2 linked regions of the Homo sapiens genome follow. Changing the gene in region 2 together with the main gene of any one other region gives a genetic interaction. Each region holds a gene or a part of one and is shown on either strand. Other genes may lie near its edges.

The links. Genes that interact genetically often act in the same process or in processes that back each other up.
Region 1: of E4F1 (region 2) and RASSF1, changing one enhances a phenotype caused by changing the other (phenotypic enhancement), as found in Homo sapiens cells (one study listed by BioGRID).

Annotation. Positions count from the first base shown.
Region 1 is NC_000003.12:50,338,799-50,342,542, forward strand, and holds the start of RASSF1 (ras association domain-containing protein 1), read right to left. Parts: upstream 2,039-3,744; 5' UTR 2,008-2,038; coding exon 1,758-2,007; intron 409-1,757; exon of another isoform or gene 296-408; intron 1-295. Other genes in the region: ZMYND10 (zinc finger MYND domain-containing protein 10), read right to left, coding at 2,612-2,687, 2,776-2,901, 3,012-3,133, 3,217-3,342, 3,599-3,744. UniProt on the Homo sapiens protein: Potential tumor suppressor. Required for death receptor-dependent apoptosis. Mediates activation of STK3/MST2 and STK4/MST1 during Fas-induced apoptosis by preventing their dephosphorylation.
Region 2 is NC_000016.10:2,221,356-2,225,099, reverse strand, and holds the start of E4F1 (transcription factor E4F1), read right to left. Parts: upstream 1,510-3,744; 5' UTR 1,487-1,509; coding exon 1,330-1,486; coding exon of another isoform or gene 1,171-1,329; intron 1-1,170. UniProt on the Homo sapiens protein: May function as a transcriptional repressor. May also function as a ubiquitin ligase mediating ubiquitination of chromatin-associated TP53. Functions in cell survival and proliferation through control of the cell cycle.

The sequences.
Region 1 (3,744 bases), on a different chromosome or scaffold from region 2:
CAGCGATCTGTGTACTACCAAATGGAATCCAGTGTTCCATTCTCCATTCTCACCCCCTCAGCATCATTTGAAGCTTGCTCCCTTTGACTCCCAGGGGCTACACTCTCCCAGTTTTCCTCCTACCCCCTGCAGCTCCTGCTCAGCTCCTTTGCAGATTCTGACTCAACTTCCATATCTCACGATGAAGTCTGGGCTCAGTCCTGATCACTGGCCTGGTCTGTCTACATTCATCTGCCCCAGATCCACGGCTGAAACACTGACCTAAACCCTCAGACTAGATCCTCCGTGCCAGTACCTTCACTAGGATGTCTAAAAGACGTTTCAAGTGAACATGGCCAAAATTTAATTCCCTTTTCTTCAGCCTCACTGCTACACTTGCCCAGCTTCCTCTTTGCAGCAAAAATGGCCACTAGGCTCCCAGTTACTGGAGACAAAAGCCCAAACTTATCTTTGATTTCTCCCTTGTCTCTACCTCTGATAAACATGCCCAAATCATCCTGCTTCTTATCTCCATGGCTACTTTATTTCTCTTTGAGAACGCTGCAATGTCCCAGCCTTGTTCTTTTTTTTTTTTTTTTTTTTTTTGAGACAGAGTCTCACTCTGTCGCCAAGGCTGGAGGGCAGTGGCACGATCTCGGCTCACTGCAACCTCCGCCTCCTGTGTTCAAGCAATTCTCCCACCTCAGCCTCCCGAGTAGCTGGGATTACAGGCACCCGCCACTACGCCTGGCTCATTTTTTTTTATTTTTTAGTAGACATGAGGTTTCACCATGTTGGCCAGGCTGGTCTTGAACTCCTGACCTCAGGTGATCCACCCGCCTCCGCCTTCCGAAGTGCTGGGATTACAGGCATGAGCCACCGCGCTCGGCCCCTTGTTCATTCTTTGCATTCTGTCACAACTTTGTGCTCCCCCCAGCTGAATTTGTGATGTCCTCTTGTACCGGATGAGAGGGTCTCCATGCACACACAGACCTGGGACACTATCCATCCACAAGTTCCTAAATAGGCCAGAGCAGTGATGCTCAACCCAGACTCCATGTTACAATAATTTGGGGAGTTTTTAAAATTTACTGATGCCTAGGGTCCACTCCCAGCAGTTGATTCAACAGGTCTGCGGTGGGATCCAGGCTAGCGGGGAGGACTGTAAAAGCACCCCTGGTGATTCCAGCTGGTGTCTACCCAGGGGAGAGCAACCTTTGCTTGCTGGCGATTCCCAGGGGTGCAGAAGGACTGCTGGGTGTGTGGCTGCGTGCATATTTTAGCATCTGATTCACTGGGTCAGAAAAGGGTGTTTGCTAAATAAAGACTCAACAAAACTCCTGCTTGCAGGGGGCCCACCAAAGGTTCTAAATTTTTCCAGGCTCCCTCCCATAGGTGGTAATTTCCCTTCACCCTAAAGGTTCTGGAGGGGGTCATGAGTGTTTGAGAAGAGGCAAGCCTGGGAAGATGGACTCCGAGGACAGTAGGCACAAACCCTTTCTCAAGAAGGGCCAAGGCATTTTAAAGATAAGAAACTTAAAATCAGCGTATTTTTACATATAAGCAGCCACCTCTGCTCATCTGTGGCCCAGATACGAGTGGAGTGCGACAAGGGATAAACCATTTTCGCGCACTCTTCAGCGATGGGGCGAAAGTAACGGACCTAGTCCTCGGGAGCTGTCCCCGCCGACCCCCTCTGCCGCGACTTGACCCGCGGCGACTGCGCTGCCCCTTGGCTGCCCCTTCCGCTCTCGTAGGCGCGCGGGGCCACTACTCACGCGCGCACTGCAGGCCTTTGCGCACGACGCCCCAGATGAAGTCGCCACAGAGGTCGCACCACGTGTGCGTGGCGGGCCCCGCGGGCTGGAAGCGGTGGCCACGGCCAGGGACCAGCTGCCGTGTGGGGTTGCACGCGGTGCCCCGCGCGATGCGCAGCGCGTTGGCACGCTCCAGCCGGGTGCGGCCCTTCCCAGCGCGCCCAGCGGGTGCCAGCTCCCGCAGCTCAATGAGCTCAGGCTCCCCCGACATGGCCCGGTTGGGCCCGTGCTTCGCTGGCTTTGGGCGCTAGCAAGCGCGGGCCGGGCGGGGCCACAGGGCGGGCCCCGACTTCAGCGCCTCCCCCAGGATCCAGACTGGGCGGCGGGAAGGAGCTGAGGAGAGCCGCGCAATGGAAACCTGGGTGCAGGGACTGTGGGGCCCGAAGGCGGGGCTGGGCGCGCTCTCGCAGAGCCCCCCCCGCCTTGCCCTTCCTTCCCTCCTTCGTCCCCTCCTCACACCCCACCCCGGACGGCCACAACGACGGCGACCGCAAAGCACCACGCGGAGATACCCGTGTTTCTGGAGGCCAGCTTTACTGTGCTAGAGGAAGAGGGTCCCCACATCCGGCCCTGGCCCTCCTGGTCCGGTTTGCTGAAGCAACACACTTGGCCTACCCACTGGGTGGGGCAGGAAGTCTCGAGCCTTCACTTGGGGTGAGGAGGAGGGAGATCGGTCAGCAGCTTTACCGCCCGCTCTGCTCTCCACTGCGGAGACTGGGGCTCCGGCAGAGGCTGGACCGTGATCTTGAGGTTCAGGGGTGCATTCTGGGTGGATTCCCTTGGCATGGGTGGTCGGCCCTCAGCAACTGCAGCCCTCATTTGGCTCTGTCACCCTGGGCTGCCAGGACACAAGTCTTTCCATGCTTTTCCCAGTGCTTGACTTGGCACTCCCTGCAGGCAGGTGGGTATTGAGGATGGCAATGCATGTGGGGGATGTGGGAGTAGGGCTTAGAGGTCCAAGGTTCTAGGATACCCTCACCTGCAGCAATACCACTCATTCTGGCATCGTGAGCAGCGCTTAGAAGCCTCTGCACTGCAGTAAGCACAGCGGGGCCGCTCTGGAGCCACTGCCTCTAGCACATCCAGCCTGTAGGTCTCAGCCCACCTGGGGGAAAGTCAGGAAGGTCTGACTGGCCCTGGAAGGTGGGGGCACCCCACCCACATCCATGCCTCCTGCATCCCCTCCACCCTCCCTGCCATTTCCACAGGCCTTACCTTCGCGCCTGCAGCCGCAGGTCCTGCTCTGAGGGGCTGAACACATGCTGGAGCTGGTGCTTGGCAATTGCCTGCCACTTGCCTCTGTTTTCTCGCTCCAGCCGCTCCCAGATTTCTGGGATCTAGGAGAGAGAAGTGGAGAGTGGCAGGAAGGTGCTGGTAAAGTGGGACAGTGGTCCTGAGCAGCTAACTTTCCAGTGCCTACCTGTTCCAACACCAGGTCCTTCTTAGGAGGCTGGGTTTCAGTTAGGGTCAGATGGGCCAGGAAACTCTGCAAGTGGGCCAGGTTGGGCAGCTGGTCCAGCAGTGTGTCTGTGAGGAAGGCCCGAAGCTGCAAGGGTGTCCAGTGGAGGCCAGTGTGATGCAGGTGCTGGCCAGGGGGCCAAGGAAAAGGAAGGGGCTGGGTTGGGCTGAGAATGCCTGTGGGGGCCCATGTCCCACTAGCTGGTGTGTCACCTGAGGCCCAAGGACTGAAAAGAGCACTGGGGTTGAGGTGGGTGGGCAAAGATAAACAGCAGGGACGCAGTCGGGGTAGGATGGGGAGGGCGGTACTGGGGCTGTGGGGGCTGGTGCGGAGGGAGTCTGACCTTGAGTAGCCGTCCCTTGGCAAAACTTGTGAGGCAGTAGCGCGCCTGAGCCTCAGGGCTTAGCAGCAGGTTGTACAGGGCGATCCACACTTGCCCGTCCAACTTGCTCAGCTTTTGCTGCTCTGAGGGGGCCACAGTATGCCAAC
Region 2 (3,744 bases):
CTGGGATTACAGACGCGCACCACCACGCCCAGCTAATTTTTGTATTTTTAGTAGAGAAGGGGTTTCACCATGTTGGCCAGGCTGGTCTCGAACTCCTGACCTCAGGTGATCCACCCACCTTGGCCTCCCAAAGTGCTGGGATTACAGGCGTGAGCCACTGCGCCTGGCCACAATCTTTATTTTAATTCCCATGATGCTTCTATGAGGCAGCAGAGCCCGGAAGTTAAAGGGGCTGTGAAGGCCTTCACAGTGCTGAGATCCAATCCAACCCTTGCTACTTAACTACCTGGGTGACCCTGGTCATTTTCTTTTCTTTTGAGACGGAGTCCGGCTCTGCCGCCCAGGCTGGAGTGCAGTGGCGCGGTCTCGGCTCACCGCAAGCTCCACCTCCCGAGTTCACGCCATTCTCCGCCTCAGCCTCCCCACTACAGGCGCCCGCCACCACGCCCGGCTAATTTTGTTTTTTTGTATTTTTAGTAGAGACGGGTTTCACCATGTTGGCCAGGATGGTCTCCATCTCCTGACCTCGTGACCCGCCCGTCTCGACCTCCCAAAGTGCTGGGATTACAGGCGTGAGCCACCGCACCCAGCCCACCCGGTCACTTTCAGGTCTCCAACCTTCGATTTTCCTCATCCCCAAAATGAGAATAACAATAACATCCACCTGTCAGGACTGGTTTGAGAATGAAAAAACCTAAAGCAGGATAAGGGCTTGTTACATTACTGGCAGAAGCCGCCGCCCCATTCTGTAGGGGAAATAGAGGTTCACAGAGGTAGGGTCACCTACCCAGGATCAAAGAACTAGAAAGCGGCAAGTGTGGGACTGGAAGGGGCCACAGGCTGGCTGCAGTGCACCAGCCCTCTTGCACTAGGCTCTGCTGCCTCCCTACGGACAGGCCCAGAGCCCAGATCCTGGAGAAACCGAGGCCCCACCCTCTTGGAACCACCAACAGGGCCCTAGACGCCCATCAGGTGCAGGAGGAAGGGGCCCAGAGGAGGGGAGGGCCAGGCTCAGGCATCGGAGGCAGAGAAGGGCCGGGACGCCGGCGTCTGCGAATGTCTACACCGGGCGCCCGGGGGCTCAGCAACCCGCGAGCACTTGTGGACGCACACCAGAGAGGGGGGATGACAGGCGCCCCGCAGGAGAGGCCCGTGAGGGTCGCAGCAAACCTGGGGGTTTCGTGGAGGGCTGTGAGGGTCCCGCGAGATCCGCGAGGTGTCTGGGTCTGGGAGGGTCGGTCGAGCCCGCAGCTCGGGCCATCCGGGCCTCTGCCAGCCCGGGATGAACTGCCCGCACCCCGGCCGCACCCTCCGGGTCGGCCCGGTTACCTTCCTCGCTGAAGGGCGCCGGGAGGCCGAGGAAGCCGCTGGGGGCCAAGGCCGCCGCCACCGCCGCAACTGCACCCTCGCCCGCTTCCCGCCCGGCTTCGGCCTGGGCTTCTGCCGTATGAGCGGCCGTCACCCGCACTGCCATCGCGCCCTCCATGTCGCAACGCGCCGCAGGAAGATGGCGGATTTACGACCATGTCGTCATAACAACGGGCCGCGCCGAGGCCAGCGTGAGGGAACGGCAAGAGGAGGGCGGGGCAGAACCGGAGCGGATTGACGGACAGGCGGGGAGCCGGGCCTGGATAGCGGTGTGGCCTTAAAGGGCAGAGGCGGGGCCGGGCGCGCTGAGAGCGAAGATGGGGCGGGACTGTGGGGAGGGCGTGGTTACGGTGGAGCAGATTGCCAGCCAGGGGGCGGGGCGGCAGAAGGACCTATGTTCGAGGCTGCACTCGGATTTGAGAGCCAGAGAACGCGAGGGGCGAGCGGACTGGCGGCTGCTAGGCAGCCGCGCCCCAGCGCTTCCGTACCTAAGGACAGGTCGCCCCGCCCGCGGCTGCTGCTGGGAAGCCGCCACAGCTCCAACCAGGGGTGTGGTGCCTGCTGCCCACTGACCGCCTAGGGTGTTAGAGCCTCCCAAGATGGTTACCCGGGTCACGGGAAAAGAACACGGGTCGGGGATGGCTCATGGGTAGCTCTGCGAAGCTGTTTTATTCTTTTATATACTTTTAATTTTTTTTTCTTTCTTTTTTGAGACGGAGTCTCTTTCTATCGCCCAGGCTGGAGTGCAGTGGCGCGATCTCGGCTCACTGCAAGCTCTGCCTCCCGGGTTCACGCCATTCTCCTGCCTCAGCCTCCTGAGTAGCTGGGACTACAGGTGTCCGCCACCACGCCAGGCTAATTTTTTGTATTTTTAGTAGAGACGGGGTTTCACCGTGATAGCCAGGATGGTCTCGATCTCCTGACCTCGTGATCCGCCCGCCTCGGCCTCCCAAAGTGCTGGGATTACAGGCGTGAGCCACCGTGCCCAGCCACTTTTTAAATTTTTTAAAATTTATTTGCATTATGTATTTTAAATAGAGACAGGGTCTTGCTGTTTAGACTAGGCTGGTCTCAAACTCCTAGCCTCAAACCATTTTCCCATTTCGGCCTCCCAAAGTGCTAGGATGACAGGCGTGAGCCACGACTCCCAGCCACGTTGAATTTTTGGTTTTGGAGATGGGGGTTGTTTTTGGTTTTTGTTTGTTTGGGGTGTTTGTTTTTGAGACAGAGTCTCACTCTATCACCTAGGCTGGAGTGCAATGGCGCGATCTCACTGCAGCCTCCGCCTCCTGGGTTCAAATGATTGTCCTGCCTCAGCCTCCCGAGTAGCTGGGACTACAGGAGTGCACCACCATGGCCAGCTAATTTTTGTATTTTTAGTAGAGACAGGGTTTCACCATGTTGGCCTAGATGGTCTCAAGCTCTTGACCTCACGATCTGCCCGCCTCGGCCTCCCAAAGTGCTGGGATTACAAGCATGAGCCACCGCGCCCGGCCTGTTTTTGTTTTTTGAGATGGAGTCTCGCTCTGTCACCTAGGCTAGAATGCAACGGCACGATCTTGGTTCACTGCAATCTCCGCCTCCCAGGTTCAAGCGATTCTCCTGCCTCAGCCTCCTGAGTAGCTGGGACTACAGGCAACTGCCACCACACCCGGCTAATTTTTTTATATTTTTAGGAGAGACGGAGTTTCACCATGTTGGCCATGCTGGTTTTGAACTCCTGACCTCAGGTGATCCGTCCCCCTTGGCCTCCCAAAGTGCTGGGATGACAGGCATGAGCCACCGAGCCTGGCCAGATTTTTTTTTGAAACAGCACCTTGCTCTGTCGCCCAGGCTGGAGTGCAGTGCCGTGATCTCAGCTCACTGCAGCCTCTACCTCAACCACCCAAGTAGCTGGGACTACAGGTGCCCATCACTAGCTAATTTTTGTATATTTTGTAGAGATGGGTTTTTGCCATGTTGCCTAGGCTGCTATAGAACTCCTGAGTTCAAGCGATCTGCCTGCCTCAGCCCTCTTACATACTTTTAAAAAATTGTGGGCCAGGCACAGTGGCTCACTCCCGTAATCCCAGCACTTTGGGAGGCTGAGGTGGGTGGATCACCTGACATCAGGAGTTCAAGACCAAGCAGGCCAACATGGCAAAATTACGTCTTTACTAAAAATACAAAAATTATCTGGGTGTGGTGGTGCACGCGTGTAATCCTAGCTACTCAGGAGGCTGAGGCAGGAGAATCGTTTGAACCTGGGAGGCAGAGGTTTCAGTGAGCCGAGATCGTGCCACTGTACTCCGGCCTGGGCAACAGAGCAAGATTCCGTCTCAAAAAAAACTGTGGTAAGTGCACATAAAATTTACTATTAGCGACATTCACAGTGTT